3 linked regions of the Homo sapiens genome follow. The protein of the gene in region 1 purifies or fractionates together with the protein of each later gene. This does not show direct contact. Each region holds a gene or a part of one and is shown on either strand. Other genes may lie near its edges.

The links.
Region 2: the proteins of SLC25A3 (region 1) and DHRS4 purify together in Homo sapiens (affinity purification with mass spectrometry; one large-scale study listed by BioGRID and IntAct). This does not show direct contact.
Region 3: the proteins of SLC25A3 (region 1) and OPA3 purify together in Homo sapiens (co-immunoprecipitation; one large-scale study listed by IntAct). This does not show direct contact.

Annotation. Positions count from the first base shown.
Region 1 is NC_000012.12:98,596,582-98,600,232, forward strand, and holds part of SLC25A3 (solute carrier family 25 member 3 isoform b precursor), read left to right. Parts: intron 1-1,274; coding exon 1,275-1,454; intron 1,455-1,940; coding exon 1,941-2,122; intron 2,123-3,053; exon of another isoform or gene 3,054-3,303; intron 3,304-3,373; coding exon 3,374-3,546; intron 3,547-3,651. UniProt on the Homo sapiens protein: Inorganic ion transporter that transports phosphate or copper ions across the mitochondrial inner membrane into the matrix compartment. Mediates proton-coupled symport of phosphate ions necessary for mitochondrial oxidative phosphorylation of ADP to ATP.
Region 2 is NC_000014.9:23,956,732-23,960,382, forward strand, and holds part of DHRS4 (dehydrogenase/reductase SDR family member 4), read left to right. Parts: intron 1-3,170; coding exon 3,171-3,272; intron 3,273-3,651. UniProt on the Homo sapiens protein: NADPH-dependent oxidoreductase which catalyzes the reduction of a variety of compounds bearing carbonyl groups including ketosteroids, alpha-dicarbonyl compounds, aldehydes, aromatic ketones and quinones.
Region 3 is NC_000019.10:45,582,619-45,586,369, reverse strand, and holds the start of OPA3 (optic atrophy 3 protein), read left to right. Parts: upstream 1-1,567; 5' UTR 1,568-1,605; coding exon 1,606-1,747; intron 1,748-3,751. UniProt on the Homo sapiens protein: May play some role in mitochondrial processes.

The sequences.
Region 1 (3,651 bases):
TTTAGTTTATGTGCTTTTTTTTTTTAACTTGTGTTTAGTTTGTTTAGTGTTCACAAAACTTTATGCTATAAGCTACTTAAAGAACTAGCATATGTTAGGAATACAGTTATATCTATTATCTAGACAGTAGCTTTTAAAAAGTAGGAGGTGGGCCAAGCATGGTCGCCCACACCTGGAATGCCAGCATTTTGGGTAGCCGAAGCAGGTGGGTCACTTGAGGTCAGGAGTTCGAGATCAGAACTCAATCTAGCCAACATGGTGAAACCTCATCTCTGCTAAAAATACAAAAATTAGCTGGGCATGGTGGCGTGCCTGTAGTCGCAGCTACTCGGGAGGCTGAGGCAGGAGAATCGCTTGAACCTGGGAGGTGGAGGTTGCAGTGAGCTGAGATCACACCATGGCACTCCATCCTGGGCTACAGAGCAAGACTCAAAAAACAAACAAACAAAAAACACAAAAAAAGTAGTAGGAGTTGGGTGGTAAGAAATCTGTTAAGAATCAGTTTTGTTACGTATTTTTGTTGAAATTTTACCCTCTTAACTATCACTCCAAGACTTAAGTTTGACACAGAAAGCTTTTGTTGAAATTTTACCCTCTTAACTATCACTCCAAGACTTAGGTTTGACACAGAAAGCTAGACCTTAATGTACAACAGTTTCTATTTATAAAAGTAATCAAATGAACAATAATAAACAGTGATAAGCATAAACTAATAAAAGTTATATGAATGTAGTTCCTCACTCAAAATATCTTAATATTTTCAGATGTCAGTTGACCTTGGATAACTGAAGCCACAGAAAATGAACTCTTGGATAAGGGAGAGCTACTGTATTTCTTTTTTTTTTTTTGAGATGGAGTCTTGCTCTGCTGCCCAGGCTGGAGTGTAGTGGTGCCATCGTGGCTCACTGCAACCTCCACCTCCCTCCCTCAGGCTCAAGCGATTGTTCTGTCTCACCCTCACCCTCCCGAGTAGCTGGGATTACAGGTGCACGCCACCATGCCCGTCCAATTTTTTGTATTTTAGTAGAGATGGGGTTTCACTGTGTTGCCCAGGCTGGTCTTGAACTCCTGAGCTCAGGTAATCCACCTGCCTCAGCCTCCCAAAGTGCTGGGATTACAGATGTGAGCCACCGTGCCTGGCAGGAATTACTGTAGTTACCTTTTGTGTAGTTGCTGAAATTTATTATGGAACCCAAACAAAAATAATCATGAGATTAAATTTTTATGTTAGCTGTTTGGTGCATTTAATTTTTTTTTTCTTGTTTTAAATAAAGGTGGACCCCCAAAAGTACAAGGGCATATTTAACGGATTCTCAGTTACACTTAAAGAGGATGGTGTTCGTGGTTTGGCTAAAGGATGGGCTCCGACTTTCCTTGGCTACTCCATGCAGGGACTCTGCAAGTTTGGCTTTTATGAAGTCTTTAAAGTCTTGTATAGCAATATGCTTGGAGAGGTATGTAATTAACTTTAAAATTGAATGTTCCGAGTGTTTAAGACTTTCCGAGTGTTCTTAGATTTTTGTCTGTCTTGCCTTATTTTAGCACTGAAGAAAATGGTCCTACAAAGTGAGCAACTTGTTTTAAATCGTATGCCTGTGTCAGCAGAGACAGGTTGATAAATGTATTTCATTAAATTACAATTCTCCTTTTAATATACTATCTTGTTTTCTAAGTAAGTTGGATTTTGAGTTTTTTAGAGAAGGGCTCTGGGACTCCTTTGCGTAGTTCCGGGGCATGGCATCTAGATATTTTTTGAATATTCATGTTGTTCACATAGTTACGTGTTTTGTTAATGAGGTTATGAGACCACATATATATTCCATATCATCGTGTGTTACTTTATAAAATGTCTGAAGCTTAGTTGTTTTCTAGAACTGTCACTTCAATTGAAAACCAACACAACAGCAATTCACATCCCTTCCTTGTGTTTTGGATTTTAGGAGAATACTTATCTCTGGCGCACATCACTATATTTGGCTGCCTCTGCCAGTGCTGAATTCTTTGCTGACATTGCCCTGGCTCCTATGGAAGCTGCTAAGGTTCGAATTCAAACCCAGCCAGGTTATGCCAACACTTTGAGGGATGCAGCTCCCAAAATGTATAAGGAAGAAGGCCTAAAAGCGTAAGTAAACACTTAAAAATTTATACTATGAAAGTACTTATTTTAAGTGAACTTCATTTTTTTTTGTTTTTTTTTTTGTTTTGTTTTTTTGAGACAAAGTCTCGCTCTGTCACCCAGGCTGGAGTGCAGTGGCGTGATCTCGGCTCACTGCAAGCTCCGCCTCCCGGGTTCACGCCATTCTCCTGCCTCAGCCTCCCAAGTAGCTGGGACTACAGGCGCCTGCCACTGCGCCCAGCTAATTTTTTGTATTTTTCAGTATAGACGGAGTTTCACCGTCTCCATCTCCTGACCTCATGATCCGCCCACCTTGGCCTCCCAAAATGCTGGGATTACAGGTGTGAGCCACCGCACCCGGCTTCTTTTTTTTTTTTCTTTGAGACGGAGTTTTGCTCTTGTTGTCCAGGCTGGAGTGCAATGGCACTATCTCAGCTCACTGCAACCTCCGCCTCCCAGGTTCAAGTGATTGTCCTGCCTCAGCCTGCTGAATAGCTGGGATTACAGGCATGCACCACCACGCCTGGCTAATTTTGTATTTTTAGTAGAGACTCCATGTTGGTCAGGCTGGTCTCGAACTCCTGACCTCAGGTGATCCACCCGCCTCGGCCTCCCAAAGTGCTGGGATTACAGGCGTGAGACACCGCGTCTGGCTGTGAACTTCATTTTTTAGTATTAAGCCTACCAGACTTTTTAAAAAGACTATTATAACATTTAATGTCTATTTACCTGTATGTAGAACATAAACTTGAGAGGTAAAGATAAGTTAATACATGGTTTGAGCCCTGGACTGAGTTTTTTTTTTTTCCCTAGAGTAAGGACCATTTGTCGGTCTACAAATGACTTGATGTTTGGCCTAAACATTTACTATTAACTTTTAGGGAGGGCTTGTTAGTATCCTTGTGATCTATTCACAGTTAAGAATTTCCATGACCACAACATGCTTCCTTAGATCCACCTTTGTGGATGAATCTTGAACTGAGTTCCACTTGTAAACTTCTTGTTTCTTGTGGTTCCAGTAGTCAAAGAAACATCCAGCAACTTTTTTGGTTGTATAGTCAAAGGTGCTTGAGTCATTGGCATGTAAGAGAAATATACCTGCATGTTAGTCTAACGTTCTGATAGAAATGACATGCATTTATGCTGCCATTTGTTACTATCAGGACTCGACTCGTGTGCGGACATTTCTGTTAATAATGACAGTCTCTGATAGATGAGTGTATGCAACTGTGTAAAACAAGTCTCTTGATTTCCTAGATTCTACAAGGGGGTTGCTCCTCTCTGGATGAGACAGATACCATACACCATGATGAAGTTCGCCTGCTTTGAACGTACTGTTGAAGCACTGTACAAGTTTGTGGTTCCTAAGCCCCGCAGTGAATGTTCAAAGCCAGAGCAGCTGGTTGTAACATTTGTAGCAGGTTACATAGGTACGAATTACTTAGAACACACTTGTCTGAAATTATGAACAAATAATCATTTCCATTATTGGCGTTTTTTGAGAGGGAAAAATACTCCAAAGGTTATAAAGCAGT
Region 2 (3,651 bases), on another chromosome or scaffold:
CAGCTAGGATTACAGGCATCCACCACCACGTCCAGCTAATTTTTGTATTTTTGGTAGAGACAGGGTTTCACCATGTTGGCCAGGCTGGTCTTGAACTCCTGACCTCAGGTGATCCACCCCCTCGGCCTCCCAATGTGCTGGGATTACAGGCGTGAGCCACTGTGCCCGGCCATAGCTTCTTAAAAGGATACGTTAAGGACCTTAAAAGGATATGGCCTCTTAAAAGGATATGTTTACACACCCTTGTAGCAAATAAGAAGCCATGTGAGGTTTTGAGCAAGAGAAAGATGGTTATTAGGAAAGCTAATCTGGCTCTGGTAGGAAGGATATACAGAGGAGACACCGAATCCAGGGCATCAGTGAGGAAGCTGTTGCTGTCCTCCAGGTTTAGAGCAGTGGCGGTGGGACTGGAATAGATGTGCCCAAGAGACATTCAGTGGAAACGAACCAAGATTTTCCAACCCCATGTCAAAAAGTGGGAAATAGAGAAGTCAAAAATGACTCTCAAGTAGTTTGTATGACCATTGTCAGAGAGGAGAATGATAGAATACTTGTCAGCAATTTGAAATGTCTTCTGCCAGTTGCCACATGTTACCCTGCAATGAGAAAAGCCACTTTCCTGAGAATGGATACTACCCAGTGGCCTCCTCATCTGGACACCACGAAGCTTCTCACTGGTGTTGTAAGTGGAAACCAGAGTAGCTGCCTATCTCCTTGATTATATTTTTTCTTAAAAATGTATAACTATCAGAACACAGAACAAACAGCTCCTAACCGCTTTGGTGTAGTGATCACACAATTTAGAATAAGACTTAGAAGACTTTCCTTTTTTTTTTTTTTCCAGAGACAGGGCCTCCTTCTGTTGCCCAGGCTGCAGTGCAGTGACATGATCATAGCTCACTGTAACCTCGAAGTCCTGAACTCAAGCAATCCTCCCACCTCAGCCTCCCAAGTGGCTAAAACTATAGGCATGCACCACCACACCAGTTCATTTTTTAAATTTTTTGTAGAGTTGGGGCTGTATTTCCCAGGCTGTTTTGAACTCCTGGCCTCAAGTGGTCCTCCCCACTGGGCCTACCAAAGTGCTAGGATTATAGGTGTGAGCCACCACACCCAGCCTCATTCATCTTTTATGGTTTGCTGTCTCTGTTCAATCAAAACCCAGCCTCCTCCCATCTCTGTGCTGACAGACCTGGAAGGAGAGGAGTATGGGGTATACAGCAGAGTAGAAAATGTCTCCAGGTGATTCTAGAGCAATCCATTGTCTCCTCCCAGCCCAAACACATGTGTACTGAGCACGGCGCACATCACTTATTAACTTACTCTGCACCTCCCTAGTAACAAGTCCATTGGTGAGACTTACACAGAGCCAAGGCAGGTGACTTGGCTTTGTGCCAGGATACCAAAATTTAAAGGGTGCAAGAAAGTATTAATACTGGTTTTAAAAGATTATGTGACTGTAAATTTTGTTAGATTTACACATTGACAGCCCAGCATTCCTTCAACTGTCTAGAAACAACTGAGCTTAGCACCTAGTTAACAAGAATAATTAGTTAAAACGGGAAGCTAGCAGATGGTGTACATTGTTAGTAACACCCCTCTGTGTGCCAAATCCGGAGCACAAAGTTGACCGAGGGCCCGTGTACTGCAACTTGCCCAAGGCATCAAAATTGCCAGTTCCGGGCAAACGGAAAGTCTGGTTTCAGGGTGGCTTTGTACTGAAAACCCTTGTTGGCAGATTCTGCTTGGCCATTCATTACTCTAGCACAGGCCTCACTATCTACTTATAACTTATTAAGGAGGTGAGATGTTGCCTTTCTTCGCCTTCTCAATTTAAATTTCAGTTTCTGCCTTGAATCTTTCATGCCTCCAGGTCAAAAGAGAGAGACAGAGACAGGGAAAATGACATCATAACCAAATATGGAATTGCTTTAAATTCAGGCTGGTATCTTCTCCCATCACGGCTCTCCTGGGCAACCAGTTTCCTGATGACCCCAACTCACTTTCAGAGGGCTCTTATGAATTAGCTCTGTGCTACAAAGTGGGAGACTGACCTCAGTTCTTCCACCACTAACTAGCTTTGTGCCCTGAAAACATCACTTCACCCCTCCCAAACACAGAATAAGCAGGCCTCCTGTTCTTACCTAGCCCCAGTGTGCCACTACTGAACTATAAGATCTTGAGAAAATTCTCTGAACCTATTTCATCATCTCCACCTTAAGGACACTGGAATAGATGATCTCAAAGGCCCCTCCAGGGTAACTTTCTACAGCTCTATTTAAGCCAGTTTTTCCATTCAGGTAAGTGTGGACAGATTGACTTTGAGATAATGGTAACTTATTCAAGGAGAACTGGACAGTAAGCACTTGGAGAAATGTGGGTGGAACTCAGTGTGAAAGGAAGAGGAGGGGTCTGGAAATAGATTTTGGGGTGAGACTTGAAATCATGAGAATGAAGGAGCTTCCCAAAGGGGAAGTGTAAAGAAAAGAGCGTCAGAGACAGCCTTGGAAGAATAGGAGGTGGGAAGAAAACACTGCAAAAGAAATAGGGCCAACTTCCTGGTGGGTCGCGCCTGTAACACTTTAGGATACTGAGGCAGGTGGATGGCTTGAGCCCAGGAGTTCCAGACCAGCCTGGGCAACATGGCAAGACCCTGTCTCTATAAAAAATACAAAAATTGCCCGGGTGTGGTGGCACGCACTTGTAGTCCCAACTACTTGGGGGGCTGAGCCAAGAGGATGGCTTGAACCCAGTAGGTCAAGGCTGCAGTGAGCTGAGAACATGCCACTGTGCTCCAGTCTGGATGACAGAGCAAGACTCCGTCTAAAAAAGAAAGAAGCCAACCTTAAATGGTTAGCGGCAGATCTTAGGGTAGTTTTCAAAAAAGATGTTTTAAGAAATAGAAGTTATTTTGACGATAGTTCCTAAGTAGGAAGATTTTGTTGTCATTGTTGTTGTTGTTTTTAATATAAAGATAAGGTCTCGCTGCATGGCCCAGGCTTCTCTCAAACTCCTCAGCTCAAGTGAGCCTCCCACCTTGGCCTCCCAAAGTGCCATGATTACAGGCATGAGCCACAGCTCCTTGCCCAGAAGGAAGTTTTTATCAACATGGGTAAATGCACCTCCCTTACTTACTGCAGCCCTGGTCCAGAACTTACCCCTCTCTCTAGGCTGTGAAGCTTCATGGAGGTATCGATATCCTAGTCTCCAATGCTGCTGTCAACCCTTTCTTTGGAAGCATAATGGATGTCACTGAGGAGGTGTGGGACAAGGTGAGAGGGGATTAAAGCAGGGGGGCCGGGGGGGGCGCCTTGGAACACATTCAGCACAAACTCCATCTGCTTTTAGAATGCATTTCTCAAGGGCAGTGTAAATGTGAGGACTCTTTGCCACGTGCCACACACCTGGAGCACACCTTGCAAAGGGCGGGTGGGGGTGGCTCTATCCCTGCCCTTCTCATTCGTTTCTGCTACTCCTAGTTCTCTCTGCTTCTATCTGCTCTTCACTAGCCACAGTCTGCTCCTCTCCCCAGGCTTTTTCCCTGGCATGCTCTTCTGCCTTGTTGATTTCCAACAGAGACGTAGGCAGCTAATATGCCAACAACTACAACACTTAATTTACACACCCACCTGTCCCCTTTTCAGCTGACAA
Region 3 (3,751 bases), on another chromosome or scaffold:
CTGGCATTCTTAGTAATTCAGAATATCAGGGTTCACACACACACCAGCACCATCAGTAAAGATGAGGAAACGCAGGTCCCTCAGTGCCAGGAGCTTGACAAAGGACACTCAGAGAGTCAGACTGGATACCAAAGAAGTCCAGAGCCCCCTGATTCTGTGTCCTGAATGTATGTTTCCTCCTACACACCACTCCTCTGTTCCTGTTTTCCTTTTTTTTTTTTTTTTTTTTTTGAGACGGAGTCTCGCTCTGTCGCCAAGACTGGAGTGCAGCGGCGTGATCTCGGCTCACTGCAACCTCTACCTCCCAGGTTCAAGCGATTCTCCTGCCTCAGCCTCCAGAGTACCTGGGATTACAGGTGCCCGCCACCATGCCCGGCTAAATTTTTTTTTTTTTTTAGTGGAGATGGGATTTCACGATGTTAGCCAGGTTGGTCTCAAACTCCTGACCTCAGGTGATCCACCCTCCTCAGCCTCCCAAAGTGCTGGGATTACAGGCGTGAGCCATGGCGGCCAGTCCTCTGTTCCTGTTTTCTTCTGTCCCTCTGCCTCCGAGAATCTCTCAATTACCCATCAGCACTCCATCATCCAGGAATTTCTCTCAACCCCTTCCTGACATTGTTTATATGATTTTACTCCCTGCTGGGTAAGAAAGGACAGTCTGGGACATGTCCTTAAATTTATTTCTGAACTAGCTCCCTGGGGAACCTACCTCCTAATGAAGGAAGTTGGGTTGCTTGAGAACGGGTATGGTTTTATTGGCCAAGATGCCAGGCTATCAACCTCTGCAGGAACCTTGTGCCACCCCCTGCCCTGCTCTGGGCCTCAGTTTCCTTGTCAGTTACTTGGGAAAGGGTTGGATTCGCTGCTTCTGGGGGTGAAATGCACCCTCAGGCTGGATTTAGCATTAATAATGCAATCATGACCTGTATAGTAAGAAGGGCTATTTACTGAGCGCTTAACTATATGAATGGCACCATTCTAACCACTTCCCATGGTCCACTGTTTTACACTCAAGATTAGCATAGAAGCCTCACAACAACCCAAAGAGGCAACTGCTATTAGGATTCCCATTTGGTAGACGGTAATACTGAAGTCCAGAGAGGTTATGCCACTCATCTAATATTACACAGCGAGGAAATGGCAGAGCTGGGATCCCAGCCAAAGTCTGTATGACCGCGCGGCTTCCTCTTAATCCCAATGAGAGCCCTAGCTTGCAGAGGAAGGTGTATTTGGGGCTCATAGGACTAATTAGGACTAATTAAGAGCCTCCTTTGGGTGGGGACGCCAACTCGGAACGTGACATCACGAAGGAGTACAGTGACGTTGGCCAAGGCGGGCGTGGGAATCCACACGCCTTCCAGCATCCGTTTAACGGCACCGCCCCCTGACCCGCCTCACTTCCGTGTATATTTGCATATTCAGCGAACGGACGTCGCTACGCCAGCGTCGACGGGGTGACGTCAGGATGCGCCTCTGAAGTTTCCCTCGAGCGTACGTACATACGTACTGACGCACGCATGGCCACGAGAGGGCGGGGGAGGAGTGAAGAGGTTGAGGCGCCCCGCCCAGTCAGCAAGGTTGCGCGTGCCCTGTGAGACCGCCAAGATGGTGGTGGGCGCGTTCCCTATGGCGAAGCTGCTATACTTGGGCATCCGGCAGGTCAGCAAGCCGCTTGCCAACCGTATTAAGGAGGCCGCCCGCCGAAGCGAGTTCTTCAAGACCTATATCTGCCTCCCGCCGGCTCAACGTGAGTCTGACCCGAATTCCCTCCAACCTTTTTCCTTTCTCCAACCCCTGTCAGGTGGTTGCTTAGGGGATGGACTTCTGTCTACGACCAATCACAGCCCGAACCGGCAAAGTCCAGTGGCCAATAGTGGGGGGTTTCTGATAGAGGGGCGTACGGGTGGCCCAGTAGTGAGGGCGGGGCGGGGCGTAAGGGGCGGGTCAAGGAGCCACCACGCGAGTAGGAAATGCCAGCCGATAAAGGAAGAGAGCGCTTGGAGACTGATGCCCTGTTAAACCAATAGTGTGAGAGATGGGAGAAATTTGGACGGGGCTTTCCAGGATAGAGGAGCTAGGGGAGGGGCTGAGGAGAAACCGGACGGGGTCCTTTGCCCGGCTGTCCTTGGGCAACTTCATTTCAAAAGCGGCACCGTGTGCCTCAGTTTCCCCACTGATCTAGGAGGTGCTTGTATATCCTCCGTTTAGGACGTCGACGTGCCTCAGTTTTACTGTAGTCAATAAGTCTGGATTAGGGGCATGGTTCGGGGGTGAAGTCTGGGTTCTGGAGACATGGCCTGGGAATCCGGAAAAGGACTTTGAGCCAGAGAGGACATTCATCTGTGTACTCATTAATGCGCTCATACGCCGTCCTTTCATTCGGTTGACAGACTATGCGGCCTTTTTGCTCAGCACTGGGAGATATACTCCTGATCCATCACTGTCAACCCAGAGTGGTCGGGAAAGTGGGAGCCCCGGAGCTCAGAGGAACTGGCTGACCCAGGGACCTGAGGCCAGCAGGGCTGCCTAGAGGGGGCCGCCCGAGCTCAGATCTAAAGGGCATAGTAAGGTCCGGCGCGGTGGCTCACACCTGTAATACCAGCACTTTGGGAGGCCGAGGCGGGCGGATCACATGAGGCCAGGAGTTCGAGACCAGCCTGGCCAACATAGTGAAACCCGGTCTGTACTAAAAATACAAAAATTAGCTGGGTGTGGTGGCGCACACCTGTAATCCCAGCTACTTGGGAGGCTGAGGCAGGGGAATCGCTTGAACCTGGTAGGTGGAGGCTGCAGTGAGCCTAGATTGTGCCATTGCACTCCAGCCTGGGCGACACAGCAAGACTGTCTCAAAAAATAATAAATAGAAATAAAGGGCTTAGTAAACACCCAAAATATAAACTACTTTAAAAAGGTGATCTTGCCGGGCGCGGTGGCTCACGCCTGTAATCCCAGCACTTTGGGAGGCCGAGGTGGGCAGATCACGAGGTCAGAAGATGGAGACCATCCTGGCTAACACGGTGAAACCCCATCTCTACTAAAAATACAAAAAAATTAGCCGGGCGTGGTGGCTGGGCGCCTGTGGTCCCAGCTACTCAGGAGGCTGAGGCAGGAGAATGGCGTGAACCCGGAAGGCGGAGCTTGCAGTGAGCCGAGATCGTAACACTGTACTCCAGCCTGGGTGACGGAGCAAGACTCCGTCTCCAAAAAAAAAAAAGGTGATCTGTGTTGTGCTACGTGGGACATAAAATAAGGGAATTTAGCATCATTGGCTGGGTCAGAGAACCACTGAAACCGCCTTTGCAAAATTATGACTGACACAGCGAAAGAGATCTAAGTTAACTTACTCCATCTTGCTTCTAACCTCCAAGCTATCCTTGTTCATTCCTGGGCAAAGGCTGAACTAACTTTGGGAGAGATTTAGTTTGTAGTTTATAGTTTAAACAAACATGGTAACAGCCCTTTCCCAAAGCAGACCTCCTTCTTGTCTGGCGACTGGATTGCCTTTGTAGGACTAACATTAGCCACAAGATTAGAAATTATGGTTTAGGAGTCATGCAGCTGGAGGGTACAAGATTCTGACCCTCCCTAAACTGCTCCTAAGATCAGTGCTTGAGATATTTCACAGACCCTGCACTTGATGGATCAGCTGGCCTTACCCAGATCAATAAACTGGCCCATCTGATCTTGTGGCCCCCCAACCCAGGAACTGACTGAGCGCAAGAAGACAGCTCCGACTCCCTGTGATTTCATC